Linked DNA regions of Homo sapiens. The protein of the gene in region 5 purifies or fractionates together with the protein of the main gene of each other region. This does not show direct contact. Each region holds a gene or a part of one and is shown on either strand. Other genes may lie near its edges.

The links.
Region 1: the proteins of PSMB2 (region 5) and PSME3 fractionate together in Homo sapiens (co-fractionation; 3 studies listed by BioGRID and IntAct, with this or other methods). This does not show direct contact.
Region 2: the proteins of PSMB2 (region 5) and TXNL1 purify together in Homo sapiens (affinity purification with western blotting; 2 studies listed by BioGRID and IntAct, with this or other methods). This does not show direct contact.
Region 3: the proteins of PSMB2 (region 5) and ELAVL1 purify together in Homo sapiens (affinity purification with western blotting, with the first as the bait; one study listed by BioGRID). This does not show direct contact.
Region 4: the proteins of PSMB2 (region 5) and PSME3IP1 purify together in Homo sapiens (affinity purification with mass spectrometry, with the first as the bait; one large-scale study listed by BioGRID). This does not show direct contact.
Region 6: the proteins of PSMB2 (region 5) and PSME4 purify together in Homo sapiens (affinity purification with mass spectrometry; 4 studies listed by BioGRID and IntAct, with this or other methods). This does not show direct contact.
Region 7: the proteins of PSMB2 (region 5) and PSMG2 purify together in Homo sapiens (affinity purification with mass spectrometry; 2 studies listed by BioGRID and IntAct, with this or other methods). This does not show direct contact.

What each region holds. Positions count from the first base shown.
Region 1 is NC_000017.11:42,839,897-42,843,396, forward strand, and holds part of PSME3 (proteasome activator complex subunit 3), read left to right. Parts: intron 1-1,601; coding exon 1,602-1,682; 3' UTR 1,683-3,500. UniProt on the Homo sapiens protein: Subunit of the 11S REG-gamma (also called PA28-gamma) proteasome regulator, a doughnut-shaped homoheptamer which associates with the proteasome. 11S REG-gamma activates the trypsin-like catalytic subunit of the proteasome but inhibits the chymotrypsin-like and postglutamyl-preferring (PGPH) subunits.
Region 2 is NC_000018.10:56,635,793-56,640,012, forward strand, and holds the start of TXNL1 (thioredoxin-like protein 1), read right to left. Parts: upstream 2,801-4,220; 5' UTR 2,649-2,800; coding exon 2,551-2,648; intron 1-2,550. UniProt on the Homo sapiens protein: Active thioredoxin with a redox potential of about -250 mV.
Region 3 is NC_000019.10:7,958,073-7,960,641, reverse strand, and holds the end of ELAVL1 (ELAV-like protein 1), read left to right. Parts: 3' UTR 1-2,069; downstream 2,070-2,569. UniProt on the Homo sapiens protein: RNA-binding protein that binds to the 3'-UTR region of mRNAs and increases their stability.
Region 4 is NC_000016.10:57,183,240-57,187,464, forward strand, and holds the start of PSME3IP1 (PSME3-interacting protein), read right to left. Parts: upstream 2,801-4,225; 5' UTR 2,582-2,800; exon of another isoform or gene 208-2,581; intron 1-207. UniProt on the Homo sapiens protein: Promotes the association of the proteasome activator complex subunit PSME3 with the 20S proteasome and regulates its activity.
Region 5 is NC_000001.11:35,603,527-35,607,026, reverse strand, and holds part of PSMB2 (proteasome subunit beta type-2), read left to right. Parts: intron 1-1,744; coding exon 1,745-1,794; intron 1,795-3,500. UniProt on the Homo sapiens protein: Non-catalytic component of the 20S core proteasome complex involved in the proteolytic degradation of most intracellular proteins. This complex plays numerous essential roles within the cell by associating with different regulatory particles.
Region 6 is NC_000002.12:53,890,994-53,894,493, reverse strand, and holds part of PSME4 (proteasome activator complex subunit 4), read left to right. Parts: intron 1-694; coding exon 695-820; intron 821-1,533; coding exon 1,534-1,686; intron 1,687-3,500. UniProt on the Homo sapiens protein: Associated component of the proteasome that specifically recognizes acetylated histones and promotes ATP- and ubiquitin-independent degradation of core histones during spermatogenesis and DNA damage response.
Region 7 is NC_000018.10:12,701,793-12,705,841, forward strand, and holds the start of PSMG2 (proteasome assembly chaperone 2), read left to right. Parts: upstream 1-1,249; 5' UTR 1,250-1,315; coding exon 1,316-1,372; intron 1,373-4,049. Other genes in the region: CEP76 (centrosomal protein of 76 kDa), read right to left, coding at 694-756. UniProt on the Homo sapiens protein: Chaperone protein which promotes assembly of the 20S proteasome as part of a heterodimer with PSMG1.

The DNA.
Region 1 (3,500 bases), on a different chromosome or scaffold from region 5:
GAGGCAGGAGAATCACTTGAACCCGGGAGTTGGAGGTTGCGGTGAGCCAAGATTGCTCCATTGCACTCCAGCCTGGGCAACAAGAGCGAAACTCCATCTCAAAAAAAAAATAAAAATAGGCTGTAATCCCAGCACTTTGGGAGGCCAAGGTGGGTGGATCACTTGAGGTCAGGAGTTCGAGACCAGCCTTACCAACATGGAAAAACCCCATCTTTACTAAAAAAAAAAAAAAAAAATTTAGCCGGGCGTGGCGGCACATGCCTTTAATCGTAGCTACTGAGGAGGCTGAGGCGGGAGAATTGCTTGAACCCGGGAGGCGGAGGTTGCAGTGAGCCGAGATTGCGCCACTGGACTCCAGCCTGGGCAACAAGAGCGAAACTCCGCCTCAAATAAAAATAAATAAAATAAAATAAAATGGGACTGAAGAGGCCGGGTGTGGTGGATCACACCTGTAATGCCAGCACTGTGGGAGGCTGAGGCAGGTGGATCACATGAGGTCAGGAGTTTTTGACCAGCCTGGCCAACATGGTGAAACCCCATCTCTACTGAAAATACAAAAAATTAGCTGGGCATGGTTGGCGGACCCCTGTAATCCCACCTAATCGGGAGGCTGAGGCAGGAGAATCGCTTGAACCCAAGAGGTGTAGGTTGCAGTGAGCCGAGATCGTGCCACTGTACTCCAGCCTGGGCAACAAGAGCAAAACTCCGTCTCAAAAAAAGAAAACAAAACTGAAGAGTACCTACTGCACAAAATTCATTCGCTTTTTTAAAATAAGTGAGATAACACATTGAAGGACCTGGTACAATTCTTACTATGTTAAGTGCACAATACATGTTAGTTGTTATTAGACACTTGGGGCCTTGGAAATACCCATTTATACCCAGTTGAAGTATAAGAGAGGTGGTGCTGCCACCCTGAATGCAGGCTCAAGTGAGATTAAAATTACAGTAAGTTGGCCGGGTGCAGTGGCTCACGCCTGTAACCCCAGCGCTTTGGGAGGCCGAGGCGGGCGGATCACGAGGTCAGGAGATCGAGACCATCCTGGCTAACATGGTGAAACCCCATCTGTACTAAAAATAAAAAAAATTAGCCGGGTGTGGTGGCAGGCGCCTGTAGTCCCAGCTACTCAGGTGGCTGAGGCAGGAGAATGGCATGAACCTGGGAGGCGGAGGTTGCAGTCAGCCGAGATCGCGCCATTGCACTCCAGCCTGAGCGATAGAGCAAGACCGTGTCTCAAAAAAAAAAAAAAAAAAAAATACAGTAAGTCTTCACTTAATGTTGTCCATAGGTTCTTAGAAACTGCGACTTTAAAAATGATGTATATCAAAACCAAGTTTTTTTTTCATTAACATTGTAACAAAATGACATCGAACAAAATGATGTTATTTGAAACCAGGTTATTTGAGGACCTTCTGTACTTGATTTGCTTACCTGCTGTACTTTAATTTCCTTCAAGTCGCAGTTGCTAAGAACCTATTGATGACATTAAGGACTTACCGTATGCAGATGATTGCTTGGGGATTTGTGAAGGGGTCTCTCATTTTCTTGATGAGGTAAGGGTTGTACAGATATGTGATTCCCCTGATCCCTCTTCTCTCAGGTCACTCTACATGACATGATCCTGAAAAATATCGAGAAGATCAAACGGCCCCGGAGCAGCAATGCAGAGACTCTGTACTGAGGCCAGGGCCAGGGCCAGGGGACTCTGTGAGTCTGGCTCAAGACCGACATTGCCTTGGTTTGTTACATGACTATCGTGATGGGGAAACTGGCTGGAAATAGTAATCACACCTCTCTGTTTTTAGTTAGAGTCTAATGAAACTCTCATCTAGTTCTGTGATGTGTTTACCTCTTTTTTCAGGCCTCAGGAACTCTTCTATTTCCTTCCCTAATACCCCACACCCAACCTGTCGTAATTTCTGGAGAACTCCAGGTTTGTGTGTGCAGGATGTTGGCACAAAAATACCTGTGTTTTCATTCTCCCCCTCTCTCCCTCCTGTGTCTTGCGCTTTATGTTTTCTTCCGTTTGATAATTAGTTGGTTAAAAGCTGAGGGAACCGGAAGGAAAGTGCTAGGTGTTTTTTAGGAACTAGGGTGGCGGGGGGACGAACTTCTCTTCCTCACATGAGGTTACTGTTTCTTTCCTCTGTGGGGCATTGGATCCTCCCACAGTTGCCCTGGTGATGACTTAGGGCTTCCCATCTGTGTACATCCCACTTTGAATCTTGATCGTGACAAGAAATACCTTAGGCCTTCAGTCAATTCCGAAGCTCCTTCAGTTGTTTTTATAATGGGCGTTTTCACATGCACATATGTGTATGCATGTATACGCCCATACAGACATGCACACACAGACTCCTACTCCATTAGCTAACATACCCTCCCTCTCCACAACCCCTGTCACATACCTTTCAGGAGGTGACAGTTGTCTTAGTTGTCATCTACCCAGACAAACGTCCTGGGCCCGTCCTCCCTCCTGATACTGTAGCCTCTTGGTACCCAGGGTGAGTTGGTGGAGAACAGAGAGATGAGAAGCAGAGGGCTTGGGGAAAGCCTGTTCCTCTCTGACTCAGCCCTTTTTGGCATTATTGCAAGAGCTTGACTCCTGGTTGCCTTTTCCCAGCCAGTTTTCAGTTGGGGTGAAGGTTTCTGCAAGTGTGAGGTCCAGATGCTGCTGCTCATGTTGGGCTTTCCTTTTGGGAACTATTTCTCTTTATTTATAGTGTCGGGCTTCCGGGGAAAGCAATCATTGGTGTGTATGTGTATGTGCATGCACACACGTGCATATACACATTTGTGTATGTGGAAATGTGCTGGGCAAGTCAAAACTATAGAAGAGTTGCCTCCTGTCTCTCGAATCTTCCAGAGATATCACTTAATTGTTAACAGCTTTTGTGTTAATCCCCTTCAGCCCCTAGCTCTTTTATTCTACCACGGCTGGAGAGTTGATACCTGCAGTCAGCCTGCCAGTGACTCTTAGTGTCTGTTTCTGACTTATTTTTCCTGTCTCTGTCTTCCAACCCCCAATAATATTTCCACCGGGGATGCATCATTTTTACTCCCAATATTCTGTAGAGAGGGAGTCAGGATGCTGTCTTCCCACGAATAGTACTCAGTAACAAACCAATTGCATTTTAGTTGGGCAGTGCTCCCACCCACCCTCCAGATCCCTTCCAGCTAAAACCCTTCCCCCTTCCCTCCATGTGTTTCTCAGTTTCCCGTTTCGTTTGTTGGACTGTTCCACTGCCCCTCCTCCTCACCCTATCACCCATGGATCGTAATGTAAAATTCTTTTACCATGTCAAGAAATTATTAAAAATACAGGTACTTTGACCTCTTTCTAAAGCCGCAGACCCTGGTGCAATGCTCTGGTGGCTAGGGATGTACTCATGCTCATATGTGTGCACGCTTGGACACCCACCTCCATGGACACCTAGCCACCCTGTTGTGTGTCCTTATGCCAGTTGAGCTGAATCTTTTCCCCAGTATAGTGGAAAGA
Region 2 (4,220 bases), on a different chromosome or scaffold from region 5:
AGCAAGACACTAAATCACAGATGCTCAAGGGCCTAATAGAAAATGACATGGTATCTGCACATAACCTACGACCATTCTCCCATATACTTTAAATCATCTCTAGATTACTTATAATGCCTAAGGTAAATGCTATGTAAATAGTTGTTATACTGTATTGTTTAGAAAATAATGACAAGAAAAAAGTGTGTACATGATCAGCACAAATGCAATTTTTTTTCTCCAAATATTTTCTATCCACATTTGGTTCAATCCATGGATACAGAGGGCTGACTGTCCTTAATGCCAATGAATTATACTCTTACAAATGGCTAAATGGTCAATTTTATGTTATATATATTTTATCATAAGCCACTAAAGATTCTTACACAGGAGAACAATCTATGTATCATTTTAGTAAAATTTAGACTGAGAGTGCATAAAGCATAGAGGTTAAAAAAAAAGAAAAAAGGTTTAAAATAGGGTTGGAAAGGAAATGAAATAGGTGCTGGAGAAACTATGCCCTCAGTCTAAACTGGGACAGCATTAACTTTGATCTAAGAGGATTCTTACAAGATTTTACTGAATACAGTTGTTTCTGAGTCTAATACTGACCCGTCATATACATAATTCTGGGGTTCTATTGACAATGAGTTTAGACAGGATGTATTAATGGCCAATAAGTTCGAGGAATATTAAAGGTAAATACAATAATCTTACCAGATTTGTAAACGTAATATAAATATGCTTTTGAACTTACTCTAAATCCAAACATTAATTTTCCCTCGGTTTTTACAAAGAAAAAAAATTTTAATTCCACTAAAATACCTTTTTAAATGTAACAGTTCCTTACCAATCAATGTCTGCAGTTATGCTTATGCTTAAGTGACACCACACTGATAGAAAAAACCTTCCTTCGCAGCAATGTTTCCCCAGTTTTCTCACTTCAATCAATATTTATTTATTATTTTATTATCTCTCCCACTGCTATGGTAAGGGAGAAAAACAATATATCATTGAGGGACAAAAATATAAAAGCTTCGACGGGCCAGAATTAGAATAAGTGAACTAAAAGTGAGGTGAGGTTCCTTATTGAAATCCTATCTTCCCTTTTCTACTGTGGCCTAGATACTTAATGTACTACAGGTATTCCCCTATTATTAAGAATACAGACATCACAAAATTGCTAAAAATGAGAAGACACATTTATAGAATTCTAACATTCCTTTTAGGTGTTTTATATATATGACATCACTTATCCTTTTAAATTTAGTAAATGCAAAATTCCGTATATCATATGGGTACTCTAGCCCACCATATGAAATGCAAGGTACTATCCTTTTTCAATTCAGTGTAAGAGAGACTGGTCCAAAAATAAGTCTTAACTTGTTTTCATATCTATCTGCATCCATTCCCTAAAACGATATAATCCTAATGCCACCATTTATATACTCAACATTTAGTGAACCATCTAGTAGAAACTTTGTTTTTTGCTCTGAAATTCAAAATGGAATTTTGTGTTTATACAGTTATTTGGACAAGAAAGTGTGTTACATAAACAGTGATACCAGCAGTAGACTGCTCCAAGTTAGATGTATAAATAACGCCAAGGGGTCAAGGAAAATAAAGCGGAAACCTCTCATACTTCTAACTAAATACTATCGACATACACAAGGAGAGATCTGTGAAACACACACACACGCTGAAATCTTGGTTCTCAACGCCGAGTTCCAACATGTCATTCTTACAAAGGAACTTTACTACACATCCACTATAAAAGGTCCACCTTTTCTACGACCTATAATTTTGTTGATATTTACCAAAGACAGTTAACATTTTTCAAGATCCCTGTCCTCTTAAGTGAAAAAACAGAGCCGGGTCAAACTAAGACATCCGGCCAACTGTCCACCTGAAATATATTATATATGTACTGTCGTGTGTGACCAGTTGCAATCGCATACATAGGGGAGCCTAAGCTACAAGTTAGTGGCCGAACGAGGAAGAAAAAAGTTCAAATAATTTAAAAAGCACCCTAACCCAACGTTAACTTAGTTCGAAATGCATTAGCAGAAATTCAGGACTCAGAGCTACGCATATTAGTTAGATCGCCCCATCTGAATCTTCAAAGGCTTTAGAGAGATGTAGGTGGTGAAGAGAAACAAAGTGTTCGGTAAATTAAGCTTTTGGAGCTCTGGAGATGCAAATGACAGCTGGCTCTGCAGAAAGAAGGGGTCAGGCTCAGGCAAGGGTGGCTGCGGAGACTCCCACAGGCTGGAAGGAATAGGGGCGGGCCACCCCCAAAACCAGTTTGTCAAAGAATTGAAAAGGAGCAGGTGAGAAATCTCCTGAGCTGGAGAAGCCGGCCAGCCAGGCCCCCGAGCCCGTCTAGGAACCCCTGTGCATAAATGGGGGTTCACACCCGAGAAACGAGGCCTAATTCCGGCAGCTCCTGGGGCTGCGGCGACTGCCGGACACTCCGGGGCAGCAGACGGCTAGGAAACCAGGGCCAACAAAGAGTGAAAGGAAAGCAAGGAAGGACAGACGGGGACCCACAGAGCTCGAGCCTGGCCTCACCCTCTCATGGTGAACTTGACCACGGCGAGTCTGGAGCCCGCGCCGCTCAGCTCTGGCTGGAAATCCGGGTCGCTCCCGACGGGCTTCACCCCCACCATCCTCACAGAGAGCCCGGCAGGGTGGCCGCGACGCCACTGGCTTTGAAACTGAAGGAGAAGACGATCTGGGAGAGGAAGGAGAGATGCTCAGGAAGGCCGAGGCCTGGACAGAAGAGGTGGCGACCGCCGAGTCTTCTCCCGGGACTCTCAGTGCCGAGTCACGCCAGGGAGCGGAGCGGCCGAGGGGGCGGGGAGGGATGGGGGAGGGGAGAGGAGGAGGATGGGAAGGCGTGCGGCACCCAGCAGCCACCGCGCGGCAGGGCCCCCGGCGTGACGTCATTTCCGCGTCGTCCGGTTTGGCCTTCAGCGCCCAATCCCAAAACGCGAAGCGTAGTCCCACCCTCGACTGAGTAGCCTCGCGCTAACTTGAGCGGCGCAGGCGCAGAGGAGACGTGTAGAGGTCACGTGCGCAGGCGCAGACTGAGACTCAAAAGTTGGCATATGCATCCGCGTTTCCCAGATCTGAGGCTTTTACGGAGGAGGTTTCTGATTTGTAACAGTAGAGAGGAAACTCGTTTTACCCCGGGGTTCTTAGCTGCTGTCCAGGGCACCCACTGGAAGTACTTTGAAGATGCTCCTGTACTGTATTCGGGGCAGGTCTACATACAAGACAAAATAACGTTTAGGAATATTTATTAACAGACTTAATTACATATGGGGCGCTTTCTGTGCAGTCATTCAGAAAGTATCGTGCACCTGTCTTTAGGTTTTGACCAAAAAGATGAAGACACTATCCCTCCTTTAGGAAGTTCACGGTCTAGTGACCGACGCAAACAATAATTTGAATAGGAAGCGGTGGAGACTAACGAGATGGAAGGGTGGGGCAGGGTAAACTTGCTAGGAATCTGACTCCTGGATTGAATCTTTAAAGAGAAGCAGGGGTTAGATGGATGGTGAGAGGTAATATTCCAGGCAAGGGGACCACCAGGTGCAAATGCATGAGTTGAGAGGGTGGATAAGAAGAATAGCTAATATTTACCACATGATGTACCAGGCAAGACATAAGTTCTTTATATGTGTACTAGTTCATTTAATCCCTGTGAAGTAGGTTCTGTGATTTCAAGTCAAGGCAGGCTAACGCCAGTGTACTCTTTTAAATATTAGGCTAGGTGGCAAATTATCTGTCTTTGGATTTAGCTGGGGAGATGAAATTGGAGGGAAGGCCAAGGTCAGATAATGACTAGCTAAGGAATTTGGATTTTGTCGGGAAGAGAATGGAAAAATCATTTCAGGGCAATTTTGCAATTACAAGTGTGGTGAAACTCCCGTCTCTACCAAAAATACAAAAAAGTAGCCGGGCGTCATGGCGCGCACATGTGGTCCCAGCTACTCGGGAGGCCGAGGTGGGAGGATTCCTTGAGCTGGGGAGGTCAAGGCTGCAGGGAGCCATGATTGCGCCACTGCACTCCAGCCTGGGCAACAGAGCCAGACCCTGTCTCAAAAAAAAAAAAAAAAGGAAAAAGAAAAAGTGTCTTCAGAAAAGCCCTCAGGTAGCATCAAGGAGGATGGAAGGCAGTGAGATCCATTTAGGAGGATACTGTGGTGATCCAGGAACTAAATTAGGAAAGCATC
Region 3 (2,569 bases), on a different chromosome or scaffold from region 5:
CCTTTTGACCCGTGTGTAACTTCCTCTGGTAGTTAGACCCCAGGCAGCTCCGAATTTGTGAACCTGCTTCCTGATGAATTCTCCCTTGTTCCCCCTTGGCTCTGCCATTATTTCGTTTTCAGTGTAATTTGCCAAGCCGCAGTTTTCTGTGCTGGCTGTGCCTCTAGTCGCAGCTCTGTGACTGATTCCCTCCCGGGTGCTGAGTCCCCTCCCCGGCCACCATCCTGCGTGAATATCCTGAAATTCATGGGCTTCCTCGGGGGCCCGCCCGCAGGTGGTGCTGGGTGGGTTCCGCCACCTTCTCCTGGAAGGTGAGCCTTTTCCTGGCCAAGGGCAGCTGCCTTAACCTCTGAGAGTCTGCGCTTGGCCTTAGTCCTGGAGACCCAGCCTCCAGGGACTGAACCGTGCTGCTGTTGGGAGCCAAGACCGGCCCTTTGGAGCCGGCAGCCCAGGGGTCCCTGCTGGATCAGAGAAATAGAAGCACCCGAAGACGGTTAGTGGCAATTCCTTGACCCGGTTTGCTTCCAAATGAAGGCCATTTGTCCACCAGGCATTGAAAAGACATGACTTACCCAGTCCGGCATCGGACTTGAAAAATCGAAATTGACATCACTCAGCTGTTACATTTCACATCCGATTCAGCCCCCTTTTATTTCCATGTGCTTTTCGCAGCCTTCCTGTGTTGGATGAAAGAGAATAAGAATTCAGCTGACAGGAGGCCTCTATCCTGTCCCTCCACCCCACCCTCCACCTCAATCCCCTCCCATCTTCCCCAGACCTACCTCACCTACTAGGACCTGAGGCAGCTCCTTAGCAGAGACCCCTGGGGTTTAGCTGACTCTGGGGGTCAGGGGTTCCTGTCCCCAAACTTCGCAAGACAGCCCTGAAGTCACAAGTGCTTTCTTTTAAGTGGCATTGGCAATTGGCGTGTAATGATGGCAGTAGAATCTGAATCTCGGATCCCAGGCAGGGTTCACATTTCCAAACCTTTTTGATTTCCCCTGACCTCTAATGGCTGGATCCTATTTTTCTACAACCTTTCAGTGACATCGTTCAGGTTTCTTTCTTGGCCATTTAAAAAAACAAATTTTTTTTTTCTCACTTGTAAGTCACCGCCAGTACCTAAGTTAGGCTAACGGAGACTTTGACAGGACTGGATTTTTCTTCCACCAGAAGAGAAGCCTTTTCCGTTGGTTTGGGGCCACCTCTTTGACCATGACCATGTGATGTTCCGTTTACAGTGACTTGCTTTGGGGGAGGGGAGGCTCTCTTAACCGATTCCCATGTTGTACAGTAGATGGTTAGACCTTTTGTATATTAGTGTGTTTTAAGTTATTGATTTGTTTTATATAAAATAATTTATTTTTCAGGTGCCATTTTTCATTTTAACTTTGTTTTTACATGGGTTTGTTTTCAATAAAGTCTGACACTGGTGTCCAAAAGTCAACAATAAAATGAATCCCATTGTGTTCTTTTGAAGATGCCTATGTAACTTTTAAGCTTTTTAAATTATTTTCAGAAAAAAAAAAAGAAAAGCCCTTATCAGTTTTCCATCAGCCCATTGCCTTTTTATTTTTTTTTTTTAATCCTTGTGAATAAATGTTCTTTAGTGTTTTAGGAGGAAAAAGCAAACCTAGATTTTGATAACCCAGAAGACTTCAGATTAATAAAGAAGCTTTGAAAGAAGACCATTTTTCAAAATTTTAGTGAAGTGTGAATATTTTTTGTCAATGGCTTTCTCAAAGAGAATGAAACTTTTGCACCATTTTCAGAGTTTTTATAGAGATGCCAAATTGATATATTTACATGTAATGGAAACATGAAAAAGTTTTATTAAACAATTGTTCATAGCTGTGTAGACATTTTAATTCAGTTTCCAAAGCTCTCAAAAAATCGTATTTTTGAAGTACGGAGTGATGCGGTTTGGGGCGTGGCTTACAGTTCCAACGACTCAATTGTCCCGATACTCAGTTCTTTCTACAGGTATCAGGTTCGTGTTAAACGCTGTATGTTAACTATGACTGGAATTCTGTGATATTTTGGTAATAAATGAAGTGGGATCATTGCGATGTGCTGGTGTAGGGGTGATGGTGTATGACTTGTGAGCAGCCCACAGCCCAGTAATAGAGTGCCAGGGGATGGGGACCTCTTCCCTCCGAGGTAAGCCTGTGCCAGGTCCCGGGAGCCCACGAGGGGACACCCAGTTCGGGTGTGCCCTGTGCTGGCTGACCCACGGCCCTTCAGCTCCCACCCAGATGCCCCTCTTCTCCAGGTTCACAGGTCAGTGGGCCCACCGAGTGGCCCCTGGGTATGGCCCCCCTCCATCTGCTTCCCACACCAGTGCTCCCCCAACAGTGACCCGGGGATCCTGCCTCTTCCCTCGTCTGTATGTGGAACCATAGTCACTCCCGAGCCCTGGGGCCATCCTCAGTGTCCCCTCCGTGAGACTGATCTCCTTTGTCTCCTTTGGGATGGGAATGGTTAGGGGTCTCAAGGTCAGAGAGTCCAGGTTCAAATCCTGGCTCTGACACCACTCCCCAGCGTGCCACCCAGGGGAAAGTCCCTGGCT
Region 4 (4,225 bases), on a different chromosome or scaffold from region 5:
CAGAATACAGGGGGATTTTCATTTCTTGAAATAGTGGGCTAGGTAATTGAAACCAATTCTCCACCTCTGCACTAAATATGCTGGAAATTTGTCAAAAATAATTTTTTTTTTGAGATAGGGTCTCGCTCTGTCACACAGACTAGAGTGCAGTGGCATGATCTCAGCTCATTGCAACCTCCACCTCCCAGGTTCAAGCGATTCTCCTACCTCTGCCTCCCGAATAGCTGGGATTGCAGGTGCCCGCCACCATGACTGGCTAATTTTTGTATTTTTAGTAGAGACAGGGTTTCACCATGTTGGCCAGGCTGGTCTCAAACTCCTGACCTCAAGTGATCTGCCCACCTCGACCTACCAAAGTGCTGGGATTACAAGTGTAAGCTACCACGCCCAGCCAAAAATATTAATTCTTAAATAGAAAAGCTAACAAGATAGTAAAGAATTTGGACACAATCTAGAAGGTGAAAACCAGAAATTAAGCCCAATATTCAAAATGGATTTCATCCTGAGGACTTCTCTGACCTAAAAGCTAAAGTTTCAGTGCCTTTATGAGATAACAGAAACAAGTTCAAGCCAGGAGCCCATCCAGGGAGTGGAGTCTGACAACTACCTCCCTCTCCATCTTAATCTTGTGCCCAAAAGAACTACAGCTTCAAAGTAAAGGTGAACTGGGAAGTAAAACAGCAGGAATAATGGACAACAGAAACAGACTCCCCCAAAGGGAATTCAGACAGTGGAATTAAACATAGAGATTATAAAAACAACTATACTTTCCATGTTTAAAGAAATAAAATTAAGCCTCAAAATAGTAAGAAATAAAAAACTGTAAAAGTGTCACAAACCAAACAGAACTTCAGAAACTAAAAATTGCAATATATGATTTAAGATTTCAGAGGCCGAGTTTAATAACAATGGAAATAACTTGAGAATAAATTATCCAGAATGTACTACGAAAGAACAGAGTAAAAGACATAGAGAAAAGAGTGAAAAGGTTTAGTTAAATCGATAAAAAAAAAAAGAGAAACAATGGGAAGAAGCAATATATGCATATAAAATGGCTGAGAATTTTACAGAATTAATGAAAGACACTAATCCACAGATTCAAGAAGTCTAATAAATACCAAACAAATTGAACAAAAACAAACCCATAGTTCCATAGAGCATAGTGGAAATACAGAAAACCAAACACAAAACAATCTTTTTTTTAAACTTGTCGATACTTGATTTTAGACAAAACAATCTTAACAACATATTCTATAGTAAAGAGTGAAACATAATATTTAAGAATGAAGACAAAGTATGTTCAAAAGGTGACTAATGGTGAACACGTTGAAAATGCTTAATTTAGCTGCCATAAAGGCATAATTACACTATGACTGACCCTGTACGTACATCGCACTTGTTACTTGATTTACCACATACGTGGTTTTCAATAGCTAAAGCAGCAGCTTGATTCTAACCAAGCATCACCATTCTTGGAAGATGAAAGTGAAGACTGATAATCAACTAAATGGTTTTGACACAATTATTCCTTTCTTATATCATGAAGCACTTCCCCACAGGGTAAGGACATGAAGACTTCAGTTGAGAAAGATAATCGGGCAGCCTCTACTTTCAGATCCTTACAAATTGTTCGCAGGTCATCTAACTAAAAGACTGTAAAAGCTGCTGTCGGCTCAATACTTTGTATCAAAAAGGAGTCTACCCACTGATTCCCTTCAAATATTTCAGAAGGGTGCCTTCCATTTTATGGTGTCCCTGTGGACACATGAATACACCAAATAACTGATGAATCGACAAATCTTATGTCACAGGTGGTAGGCAAGAGGTCATCGGGAATTCCGATCACCAGGCTCGCATCTGGCTTCTTGGGTCCCACTCCTGAACTAACCAGTCGGGCTACCCGAGCGTGCGGGAGTCTGAGAAACTGCATTTTAAAAGGGCCCCAGGAGATCTTGTTTTCCACTAACATTAAAGAACCACGACTACGAACAAACAGGTCTCCCCCTTTCCTCTGTGTGGACTGACAGTCACAAGGACCACCAACTCTCAAGCATGACGCTTCAACTCTCTTTGTTTCTTAAGTTTTCTGCAAAACGGGCCAGCTGGCTTGTTTTCCGTAATAGAAAATTCGCTTGGCACAGCAACTGGTACATGGCACACAATAAATGTGCTTCCCATCCTGCACTGCCATTCTGGGATTCAACCATTTCCAACCAGACGCCGCACATCCGAGTGAGTAACCTGGACCTGTTCCAAGACCTCTGGAACGGAGCCTGCTACTCACTTGAAACCTGGGTGGCCCTACCTAGCAGAAAATTGGGGAAACCCCATTAAACGCCCGGCAGTGTTGGGCCCGCCTGAAAGGGTCCTCGCCGCGACCCAGATGCCTTCCCGCGGGCACCCTCAGCTCCCCTCAGGCTGGGCCCGCAAGCCCCAGGCTTCGGCTACTCCGGACAAGGAGCGGGTGCGCGGACTGAGAACAGGCCTGGCCCTAACCCTAACAGCAGCCGCAGCTCATCTCTTCCGTAAGGAAGCTGGAACCCAGGTGTCGCCGCCAGGCCAGGACCGAGGCCGCACTCACCTACCGGCGCGCGGGAGGCGAGACGACCTCACCTCGGCGGCGCCCACCCCAAACCGCCACCGCAGAGCCGCTCGCTCTTAAAAAAGAAAAAAAAATGAAAGGAAGAAAGAAAGAAACAGAGGAAGGAATGAATGAAAGAAAGAAAAAAAAAAAGAAAATAGCCTTTGCTTTTGTATTTCTTTTGACCCTTCAGGGCTTCCTGTTCCTCACCGCCACAATAGAGTCCCGCCCCACTTCCGGCGACGTAACCCAATCCGCGGAGCTCTTCCTCCCCGGGAGCCCGATGGAAATCCGGTACCCTGAAAACGAGCCGGAGAGACTTGATTGGGCCATTCACGCCTCAGGATGAGGACTGGCCAGTCTGCGCCTGGAGGGCGGGCCGGTCCCGCTGATCACGTGACACGATTTTTGAAAGGTGATTGGCTGTCAAGGAGAGGGCTTGCCACCGAGGAAGGGGCGTTTCCTAGGGGACTGAGGGAGGGCTGGGGCGGTACGAAGCGGGGGTGGGCTCTGCGCGTAATGGCAGCGCCGTGGCCTCGCGTCCATCTTTGCCGTTCTCTCGGACCTGTCACAAAGGAGTCGCGCCGCCGCCGCCGCCCCCTCCCTCCGGTGGGCCCGGGAGGTAGAGAAAGTCAGTGCCACAGCCCGACCGCGCTGCTCTGAGCCCTGGGCACGCGGAACGGGAGGGAGTCTGAGGGTTGGGGACGTCTGTGAGGGAGGGGAACAGCCGCTCGAGCCTGGGGCGGGCGGACCGGACTGGGGCCGGGGTAGGCTCTGGAAAGGGCCCGGGAGAGAGGTGGCGTTGGTCAGAACCTGAGAAACAGCCGAGAGGTTTTCCACCGAGGCCCGCGCTTGAGGGATCTGAAGAGGTTCCTAGAAGAGGGTGTTCCCTCTTTCGGGGGTCCTCACCAGAAGAGGTTCTTGGGGGTCGCCCTTCTGAGGAGGCTGCGGCTAACAGGGCCCAGGTGAGAGGCAGCTATCTATCTCCTGGGGTGGCTCCTGGTACCGATGGGGTCCTGACCTACTCAGGGGTGCCCGGGATAGAAAGGGTAGATGAAGGGACGCTTTAGGAGGGTTCTTTTTGTGGAGTTTACGGTCTAGGTGGCACGGATGAGGCATACCTCCCCGGGGAGATTTAGAAACGCCTTGGGATAGAGAGAGAATGGGGCTAGGAAGCAGGAGCTAGAACTAGCGGAATGTCCTACTACGGAAGCCGGAGCTGAAAATTGGGTAAGGACCTTGGGGAGAGGGGATTTCTGGGCGGTGATGGGAAGAAGACACCTCCATCCACAGGAAAGCCAGAGTGGGGAGTAGTGAAAGGGAAACGGGAATTATTCCCTCTCTCTGTAGATCGACCAGGTGTCCCAGACACAGGATCCAACTGCTTCCGGGCTTATTGCCCGAGTGGGGTGGGGAGAGTCTATCCCACCAACACCCCTTGCGTGAGTCCAAATTAGGCATTTGTCTCTCCTGCTGCCTCACTTTCCCCGTCTTTGGGGAGGGAAACCGACTGAGACCGAGGCGGTCGGCTGAGACTCCGAGGTCCTGTCTTGTATAGTTCTCTGAGAGAGGTTGCTCCCCCTGGAGTGTTGTACTTTGAACTTTGAAGGGTTAGAAGTGTCTGTTATCGACTGAGTAGAATCC
Region 5 (3,500 bases):
GTGAGGGTCTGGTTTCATTCTTCTGTGTATGGATATCCAGTTTTTCTAGCACCATTTATTGAAGAGACAGACTGTCCTTTCCCCAATGAGTGTTCTTGGTACCTTCATCAAAAGTCAAATGTAGATATGTGGCTTAATTTCTTAATTTCTCTATTCTGTTTAATTGGTCTATGTGTCTATTTTTATGCCAGTAGCATACTGTTTTGGTTACTACAACTTTGTGATATATTTTGAAGTCTGGTAGTGGTATCAACTACCAGATTTGTTCTTTTTGTTCAGGATTGCTTTAGCTATTCAGAGTCTTTTGTGGTTCCTTACAAATCTTAGGATTTTTTTCCATAATTCTGTGAGGCATGTCATTGGCATTTTGATAGGGATTGCATTGAATATATAAATTTCTTTGGGTAGTGTTGTCATCTTCATAATATTAATTCTTCTGATCCATGAGCATGAGATGTATTTCCATTCGCTTGTATCCTCTTCAGCTTATTTCATCAGTGTTTTATAGTTTTCGTTATAGAGGTCTTTCATCTCCTTGGTTAAATTTATTCCTAGGTATTTTATTTTCTTTGATTTTTGTGTCTATTGTAAATGGGATTGCCTTCTTGATTTCTTTTTCAGCTAGTTTGTGTATAGAAATACTGATTTTTGTATATTAATTTTGTATCCTGCAACTTTATGGAATTCATTTATCAGATGTGAGAGTTTTCTGGTGGGGTCTTTAGGTTTTTCTATATAGAAGATCATGTCATCTGCAAATAGGGACATTTGACTTCCTGCTTTCCAATTGGGGTACTCTATTTCCTCCCCTTGCCTAAGTGCTCTGGTTAGGACTTCCTAGACACAGGGATGCTTTTGTGCTAAGTTCCATCTTCTGACCCCAGTCCTAACCTCGACTTTAGCCTCTGTGGGCAGTGGGTACTTTGGAATTCTTAGCTTTTACAGACTATAGATGAAGCACAGATAACCACTTCTCTCCTTACATTCCATTCTTCACTGTCAGTATCGTAAGAATCTGGCATGTTCATTCTTTTTTGGTGCTGCCCTCTCGCTCAACCTTAGCCACGCTAGAGCTCCAGGCCACATCCTGAAAAGAATTAGCCTGGCCTCCCAGTGACTTTCTTGATTTGGCATCTGTCAGTAATACAGCTGATTTGCCCACCAAAATAACTACTAGCCACCCCTGAAGCCTGAGTGCATAACATGTCGTCCCAGTTTGCCACGCCCACAGACAGTTCCTTTGGCTCCTATTTGGGGAGAGTCTCAGCCCCATCCTATGAATTCTCTTCCCATTGTTAAACAGAGACCCAGCTGGGAAAACAAGGCTGAAATTCTGACCCCATCGTCTCTTTCCCTGATTTGCAGCTGACTGGGGCAGATGGAATTGATTCAAACCCTGGACTAAGGGGGAGTGAAAGGGGTGGGTTATGATAAAGAGAGACAGGCTGCTGGACTTCTTCAGAGGTGGGCCCTGGCCAGGGGAGGCAGAATTCCTTCATGCTCACCCTTTACTGTAGCAAATCAATTTGCAATGGCTTATAGCTGCTGGAGCACTGGGTCTGGGGCCCCCCCAGCTGCATGTGGAGTAAGTTGATTGCAGGCTAGAAGGCAAAGCATTTTTTGCCTTTTACGTTTGTGTGGCACTGAGACCTGAAGAAGCCAGATTTGGAACTTAATCAAAAGCTTCTGAGAGTTGGATATAATGACAGCACCGGAAGTATTTGGTCTCTGTGTTCTCTTTCAGCTATCTCACGTGAGAGGGCAGTGGAACTCCTTAGGAAATGTCTGGAGGAGGTGAGTAGTTCCCATAGGATCCTGAAAGGAATGTTTGTCTCTCTGTTTGCCAGTGTTGTTCCTGTTCCTCAGTTATATTTTTTCAGATTTTTGCCAGAAGGTGTAATACATACCCACTAACCAGATGTGAAGTTGCTACCAGGGATAGAGTTTGGTGTGGATAGCAAGCTCACTTTTCTCTCACAGATTACCTCCTCAATGTCAGTTTTATAATTTAATTCTTTCTGGTTTATCCAAACCAGTGGTTCTCAAATTTTAGTGTGTGTAAGTATCACCTGGGAAACCTGTTAAACAGATTGCCATCTCTGCCCCAACCCTCAATTCTGAGTCCACTGTTCTGAGGTACAAACTGGGAAGCTCTGCTTTAACTGGCAGTCCCAGGTGATTTTCCTACAGGTGGTAACTGAGGCTGTACTTGAAGAACTTCTGCTCTAGACTTTATTTTTTTATTTGAGACGGAGTTTCGCTTTTGTTGCCCAGGCTGGAGTGCAGTGGCACGATTTCAGCTCACTGCAACCTCCGCCTCTGGGTTCAAGCAATTCTCTTGCCTTAGCCTCCCGAGTAGCTGGGATTACAGTTGCCCACCACCATGCCCGGCTAGTTTTTTGTATTTTTAGTAGAGACAGGGTTTCACCATGTTGGCCAGGCTGGTCTTGAACTCCTGACCTCAGGTGATCCGCCTGCCTCGGCCTCCCAAAGTGCTGGGATTACAGGCATGAGCCACCACGCCCATCCCTGCCCTAGACTTTATACCTGCTCTGTTCTTGTGCCACCTGTAATTGCCATACTGCCTGCTCCCTTAATAGTGCTCGAGTCTTTGTAATCTGTGAGAAAAAGCCTCCCCTAAGAATTCAGGAGGACCATAGAAAGCAACTAGGAAGCTTTGGGCAGAAGGGGAGAGTAGACTTTGGCTTGCGAGGACAGGATTACAGAACACACCCTTTCTAACACTACTCCTTAGAGTCTAAGGCTTTGGGTATAGATGGAGAATGGGGGAATGGGGAGGTCAAAAACCAGCCACATTAGTTTTTTTCATTCTTTTACTGTTCCTGTGGCTTAAGGATGAACTTGACCTCGTGGTTTAGTAAGAGAGTAGGAAGATAAGAGCAGGAGCGTTGGGAGTAATGTCAGTTTGCTTCTTACACAAACCTTTTGTTTTCAGTCCACAGTGCCCACCCCACCCCCCGCTTTTTTTTTTTTTTTTTAAGAGATGGATCTCACTTTGTTGCCCAGGCTGGAGTGGAGTGCAGTGGCACCATCATAGCTCACTGCAGCCTGGATTTCTGGAACTCAAGCGATCCTCCCAAGTAGCTGAGACTACAGACAGGCACCACCATGCCCAGCTCATTTTATTTTTAAGAGATGGGGTCTTGCTATGTTACCTAGGCTGGTCTTGAACTCCTGGGCTCAAGATATTCTTCCACCTCAACCTCCCAATTACAGGCCTGAGCCACAGCTCCTGGCCTCTGCTTCGTTCTGAGGACAATCACTCTTTGTTAGCTTATTATCTTGAGACATTTTAAGAGAGACGTCTGTGTTTACCAGACTGATGGGTAACAGACTATGGGGAACAGAACACTGGATTGTCTCATTCTTTCGTCAGCTGACTGACCAGAGACAGGCTCTTAGTTGCACCTCCCAGTTCAGCCTCCCTGCCTCCCAGTCATCCTCCAGCTGCTGTTTGGGTACCCTCTACCACTAGAGTA
Region 6 (3,500 bases), on a different chromosome or scaffold from region 5:
TTGAGACCATCCTGAGCAACATGGCAAAACCTTGTCTCTACAAAAAATACAAAAATCAGCTGGGCGTAGTGGTGCACACCTGTAGTCCCAGCTACTTGGGAGGCTAAGGTGGGAAAATTACCCGACCCGAGGAAGGCAAGACTGCAATGAGCCATGATCGCACCACTGCACTCCAGCCTGGATGACAGAGTGAGACCCTGTCCCAAAAAAAGAAAAGAAAAAAAAGAAAGTTGAGAAAGGGTTTTTAAGTTTATGTACTTGGTCCTTGAGTTAATGGTATTGTAACTTTTTCTGATTCTGAACAGTTTGCCTTTTAACTTCTGGTGTTAGGTAAATATGGAAGTGATTTGTTGGGGCTTGACTTATAGTTTTGGGGATTTTAACAAATTGCACACCAGGTGTTACAGTGGCTTTCAGTCTTCATTTCCCAAGCAGAACATTTGTTGATTTTTAATTCACAGTGTGAGAAATAGGATTCAAACTTGAGAATCTGAAGGAAAACTTCCTGTTTTAGCATTTTTAGAGGGAGGTACTTGGTTTTAGAAATCACTGTAGTCTATGAGAACTAAGAATTCATGGAAACAAAAATACAGCCTGCTTTTGACTATCAAAATCTTGTAATTTTAACTTTTTCAGAATCATGTATTTAAGTGGATTTTAAACGCTGAATATTGTTCTTTTTTTAACTTTATAGGCAGAACAGATTATATTTGATCATTTTTCTGATCCTAAATTTGTTGAGCAGTTAATTACTTTTCTATCATTAGAAGACAGAAAAGGAAAAGATAAGTTTAATCCACGACGTTTTTGCCTCTTTAAGGTAACTATATTGTTTACATATCCTCTTTGTAATGCTTAGTAACTATTCAGTTCGTAGGTTCATAACTTATAAATATTTGATCAAAGCTAGCCATCTGCCTTGATCTAAAATGGCACTGGAATTTACACTGAACATGTACAGACTTTTGTTGTCGTTATTCCCTAAACAAGACATTACAACCAGTATTGACATAGCATTAATATATAATACAATTAGTAAGCATTGTATTAGGTCCTAAAAGTACTCTTAAGATGATTTAAAATATACAGGAGGATGTATATAGGTTATATGCAAATACAATACCATTTTATGTCATGGACTTGAACATTTTGGTATTTTGGGGTGGGGATCTTGAAACCATTTCCCCACATACACCTAGGGATGACTGTATTTATCTTTAATGTTTGTTGTAATTGGCATTAGAAGGAAAAAAAATACCCAAAACTGCATGCGTTTTTTATGTTTAGTTGCTTTTTTTGAGGTGTGATACTTAGAGAGATTATTAATGTTTGTTTCATTGGTTACATTTTAATGTGATATTTAAAATGACAGTATTCTTACTATTTTAACTTACCGCAATTGTTAAAGCAGTTCTAAAGGGGAGTGTGCTTGGAGCTTTTAAGCACGTTAGTAATGTACAGAATAATTACAAGCATAATTATAATCGAGATGATAGTCATTTGAGTACTGAAGAACAGTCTTTGTTTTTATAGGGTATATTCAGGAATTTTGATGATGCCTTCCTGCCAGTTCTGAAGCCCCATTTAGAACATTTGGTTGCAGATTCACATGAAAGCACCCAGCGATGTGTTGCAGAAATTATAGCTGGTTTAATCAGAGGTTCTAAGCACTGGACATTTGAAAAGGTGATGTATTAATATTTGTACAGAACATTTCCTGTTAAAGCTATGTTACCCATTTTGGTGGCAATTCCCAACACATTAGATACTGATAATTAAAATATGAAATCTTCAGTGATATGAAATATGCCGATATGTAGACATTGCTTTTGATTACAGATTACAGCCTAATGGTCTCTAGGAACATTTACTATCTTTAAATTTTTGAAGTTTTTATCCACATTGGGGGAAAAAATTTAAAAAAAATTAAAAAAGAATTCCAGTTTCTTGAAAAAGAGGAAGATCCTGGAACACTGGTCCTACATTATTGCACTGTGTCACTCTGCTGATGGTGCACGTGTGCTTCTCCCTTCATTAAGCCATTCCAGCTTCTCATTAAGTCCTTTCTCTTAGCCTCCTTATCATTTATATTACTTGTCCAGTCTTTTAGACAGTTGGAGTTTGACTCTCCCTTTTAGAGTATCCCTCTTTTTAATTGTAAGATATAGTTTTCACACACCTGCCTTTAAGGTTAGTTCATTAGCAAAATACACGAGACTAAAAATAACCTGGTCAAATGTCAGGACCACCTGAGCATAAGGTAGACCACTATTTTGTCGAAGAGATGACACAAATAGGGTTTTTTGGTCACCTTTTAGGAGGACTGCAAACACTTTTGCCTACAAGAAACAATTTTATTTTAAAATGTCACATGTATTCTTGTCATCCGTTACATTACTAAAGCCACTCTTGAGTTACCTGTTTTGCAAAACATAATTCCTATCCCTATATGTTCTTTGAGATAAAGCTTTTTTTGATAAAATCAAAACAGTGCTGCCACTGGAAATTTTGTCTCAAACCCTTCCTGCTGATTGAAGAATTCCTTCCTTCCTTCCTTCCTTCCATCTGTCCTTCCGTCTGTCCATCCATCCGTCCATCTTCCTTGTCTGTCTGTCTTCTCTTTTTTTTTTTTTTTGGACAGTCTTACTCTATCGCCCTATCGCCCAGGCTGGAGTACAGTAGTGTGATCATTGCTCACTGCAACCTCTGCTCCCTGGGTTCAAGCAATGCCTCAGCCACCTTCAGTAGCTGGGATTACAGGCATGCGCCACCTTGTCAGGCTAATTTTTGTATTTTTAATAGAGGCAGGGTTTCTCCATGTGGCCAGGCTGGTCTCGAACTCCTGGCTCTTGAACTCCACCTACCTTGGCCTCCCAAAGTGCTGGGATTACAGGTGTGAGCTACTGTGCCTGGCCTTCATTCATTCTTTTAAAAAAAAAAATTCAAAATTTTTTTAGGAACTTAAAAAATTAATAATAGTAACTGTTCATGTTTATGGGGTACATGTGATATTTTGATACATGCACACAATGTGTAATGATGAAATCAAGGTATATCCTTTTTAACTAAAATACAGTCCATGGACCTGCAGCAGGGGTAGCACTTGGAAGCTTTTTAGGAAAGTAAGATCTCAGGCCCACTTGACATGAATCAATCTGCATTTTATCAAGACCTCAAGGTGATTTGTATGCTCATTAACCTATGAGAAAATCTATGTGTGTAAATGCAGTCTCTGTACGACGTACATGTTTTTATGGGCTATTTATCCAAGACTTGGAATTTGAAGATTATATCTCAGGCTGATTACTAAATTAAATTAAAATGTCATTGCCTCTTTAAGGTTTAATCAAATGATCTTGATAAACATGGAAAACTTGATTGAGGTTTTGTTTCAGCCTAGCGTACTATTATACAAGATTTTTAAGAACACATCAGTCATATGAGAGATTTGTTTTGTTTTGTTTTTTTAGACGGAGTCTTGCTCCGTTGCTTAGGCTGGA
Region 7 (4,049 bases), on a different chromosome or scaffold from region 5:
CCTGGTTCAACTTCGCTGATACCCACATGTTTCAGCGGTAAAGAAACCCTGATATCTGCCGGGCGCGGAGGCTCACGCCTGTAATCCCAGCACTTTAGGAGGCCGAGGCGGCCGGATCACGAAGTCAGGAGTTCGGGACCAGCCACACCAACATGGTGAAACCGTCTCTACTAAAAATACAAAAATTAGCCGAGCGTGGTGGCGCGCGCCTGTAATCCCAGCTACTCGGGAGGCTGAGGCGGAGAATCGCTTAAACCTGGGAGGCGGAGGTTGCAGTGAGCCGAGATCGTGCCACTGCACTCCAGCCTGGGCAACAGAGAGACTCCGTCTCAAGAAAGAAAAAAAACCTGATATCTTACAGCAGAATATAAACCTCCAAATACAACTTACACTCGATCCGACTTCCAGAAGTCGCTCGCTAAGCGCTTCATTCTCACGGCCGTCCTAAAACGCCAAGACCGCTCGTTCTATCGCCCCAGACTCTTGCTAGCACCTGCTCGGCTCGTTTTCTTTCTCGGAGACGAGGACGCTCTCCTGCCTCAAACTCAAAGCTCTGCCTACTCTGCGTTGCGCACCCCACAATCCTCGCTACAGTCCCGGCAAGCAGATGCCGCTGTCGGCCCGGGGCCGCCGGGCAGGAGGGAAAGGTTATGGGTCGGCCCGGCGGTCTCTCCCAGCACCCGCGACTCTCACCTTGCTCAGCTGCTGGTGGATGAGCTGCTTCAGCTCGGAGGCTTTCTCCGGAGGCAGCGACATGCTGGCAGCCGGCGTCTCCCCGCCGCTTCTCCCCGCCTCAGATGCCCTAACTGCGCGGCCCCGGCCGGGCCAGGGAGCGTTAGGAGCGACTGGAGCACAAAGCGCCGCAGCCGTTCGCCTAGCGCAGCTCCCGGGGGACGCAACGCCGCGTCAGGCCGGGGGCTGACCTGGAAATGAGGCCCCGGCGGCGGCGGCGCCAACTGTTTTCAAACAGTGGCGGACAAACAGGGCTTGGGGCTGGCCCGCACGCTGCCTGATCGTTTCCGCCCGCCGCTCCACCTCCCCGCGGGCCCCGCACCCCGAGACCTCAGCGCACCCCATCGCCTTGCTTGCCAGGGTCTCCGAAAGCGCTGCTGGCCCCTCTTCGCGGCCACCCGGCGGCCTCTTTCCGCCCTCTGAACCGGCAGTTAGCTGGACGGGCCTCAAGGGCCCGGCGCCCAGGGACTCAAAGGACCCTCCCGCGCCCCGCGAGGCTCCGGGGTCTCGGGCTTCCGCCTTCTTGCTGCCCTCGTTCTTGCCAGGGCCGCGGTTAGTCCCTGCTGGCCACCCCACTGCGACCATGTTCGTTCCCTGCGGGGAGTCGGCCCCCGACCTTGCCGGCTTCACCCTCCTAATGGTGAGTCTCCATTTGCGCTCGGGGCTGCCGCCTCCCGAGGCCCCTGCGGTGTCGCCACCCCGACGCGGGGTGTTTGGCGGTGCCTTGGGAGAAATAGGGCACTAGTTTCTATTTCATGTTTTCGGCCGGAAAAAACAGGGAGGTTGTAGCCGGAGGCAGCCGTCCAAACAGAACCTTTGTCGGCTGTAAAACCAAACGTAGTCAAGTCTACAATTTGTAGTCTCTGTTTCCTGTAAAACGTGATGTGTTCGTACGTTCTAGATACACTGTACTTATGTTTTGCAGGGCATCCTTCAGTTTTATCCTAGAAAGTCTTTCTACGACTAGTTTTAGAATTAGTCTTAAGCTAGCATATTATCGTTGTTAACCGGAGAACTACTGATAGGGCAATAAACATTAACTCTTGCCGGTAGTTAGCGCAGTTTTATCGCTCTTTATATTCATTCATTGTTTTAATAAAGTCTGTTATGTGCGAGTATTAGAATAAGACTAGGTGCGTGCCCTCAAAGAATTTACACTGTAGTTGGAAACATGTAATCTAAGAGCAATAAATGCTAGGCTAGAAGCTTGAAAGGGTATAGAAAGGTCCTGAGATAATTGGGAGGGGAGGGACAGATGGCTTGTTAAGAAAGGCTTTATAGAGAAAGTAGTATGCAAAAGATGGAGGGCCCGTGGGCTGGGAGTAGGGGAAAGTAGGCGTTTCAGAAAGATGGATGTCTAAAACAGAGTCAGTAAGCAGGGGGACTTGAAGACTGCCAAGAATTTGGAATGACACATTGAGAGAGAATAGGCTGTAGGCCCTGTGAACCCAGAAGGCACCATTGGAAAATGCACTGTTTGGAGTGGTATAAGGCTGGAGAGAGCTGGAAGTGTCATCCTTATTCATTACATATAAAACACACAGCCCCAGAGAAGAGTGTTTCAAAAAGGAGGGAGTGGCCATGTCAAAAGTAGCCCAGAGATGTGTAAGGTGAAGAAAGTGTATGTTTGGATTTAGCGACATGTTAATGATGGTCACCTGGACAAACAGTTACCAGTGAAGTGGTGAAGAGGAAAGCCATATTGGAGTGGGTTGAATGAATGATAGAAAACAAGTTAAAGATTTGGGTTGTATAATATATATTCAGTCATTAATTCAGAGACAGGCATGATGGCTCATGCCTGTAATCCCAGCACTTTAGAAGGCCGAGTACAGGAGGATCGCTTGAGCTCAGGAGTTCAAGACCAGCCTGGGCGACATAGTGATACCTCATCTCTACAAAAAAATAAATAAAAATTAGCCAGGTGTGGTTTCCTGCACCTGTATCTCAGCTACTCGGGAAGCTGAGGTGGGAGGATCACTTGAGCCCAGGAAGCAGAGGCTGCAGTGAGCTGAAATCGTGCCACTGCACTCCAGCCTGGGCGACAGAGTGAGACCCTGTCTCAAAAAACTTTTTTTTAATAAGAGATAAAGTTTCTGCTTATGTTTTCGTGGACGACTTGGAGAATTTTTGCTACATAGAGAAACAAGAAATGAGGTTGCAGTTAGAGGGCTATGTGGGGTCAAGGGAGAGCCTTTTAGAATGAAAGATATTAGAGCATGTTTACGTGCTGATGGGAATAATACAATATTGTGAGGAAAAGAAGGATGGTACAGAAGAGTTTAACCCAAGTAGCAAAATCGTTGAGAAGGGAATTGCAGGAGGTAACTAGGCAATTGGTAGGTGACAACAGTGAAAAGTGGGAGAACATGCTGAGGGAACACCCGAAGGACAGAAAACAAAAGGAGTTGTTGGAAGAATGCAAAGGAGGAGCTACATTAAAAGGATACTTGGGGGATAGCCTCAATAAAAATTAGGCATGTATTAGATGTAGTTGGTAAGGGAATGGGAAGAAGTTTAGGTAGATTGAATAATATTGAACTTTTTTTTTTTTTTGAGATGGAGTTTTGCTCTTTTTTGCCCAGTCTGGAGTGCAATGGCACGATCTTGGCTCACTGCAACCTCTGCCTCCTGGGTTCAAGTGATTCTCCTGCCTCTGCCTCCCGAGTAGCTGGGATTATAGGCATGCACCACCACGCCCAGCTAATTTTGTATTTTTGGTAGAGACAGGGTTTCACCATGTAGGCCAGGCTGGTCTCAAACTCCTAACCTCAGGTGATCCACCTGCCTCGGCCTCCCAAAGTGCTGGGATTACAGGCATGAGACACCATGCCCGGCGCCCTTTTCTAAAATACAAAATATGGGGAAAAATTTGGGCAAAAGTTTATAGTTTTGGACATGTGGAATGTGAGTTTCCTGTGACCTAACCATGTGGAGACGTCCATTAGGTTGTGGAGCTCCTACGTGTTCTGGGATGTAGGTAGGGATTTGGCAGCTTCATTATTTTAAGTCATGGGAAAAAGAGAGAGAGAGAGAGAGAGAGAGAGAGAGAGTGTGTGTGTGTGTGTGTGTGTGTGTGTTTAGTGTGAAAAGATCACTTCAACCTTTCGGAATGGGTAAAGAGGCACTAATAAAGCAAATGGTAAGCAGACCCAAGAGTGCTTCTGTTCATACCTCGAAGCCTTTACACTTGCTTTCCCACTGCCTGGAATGTTCTTTCCCAGATCTCTGTACGGCTGTCTCCTTTACCTTTTTCAGGTCTCTAGTCATTTGTCACCTAGGGTGAGTCTTTCCTCGAACACTCTACTTAAAATTGC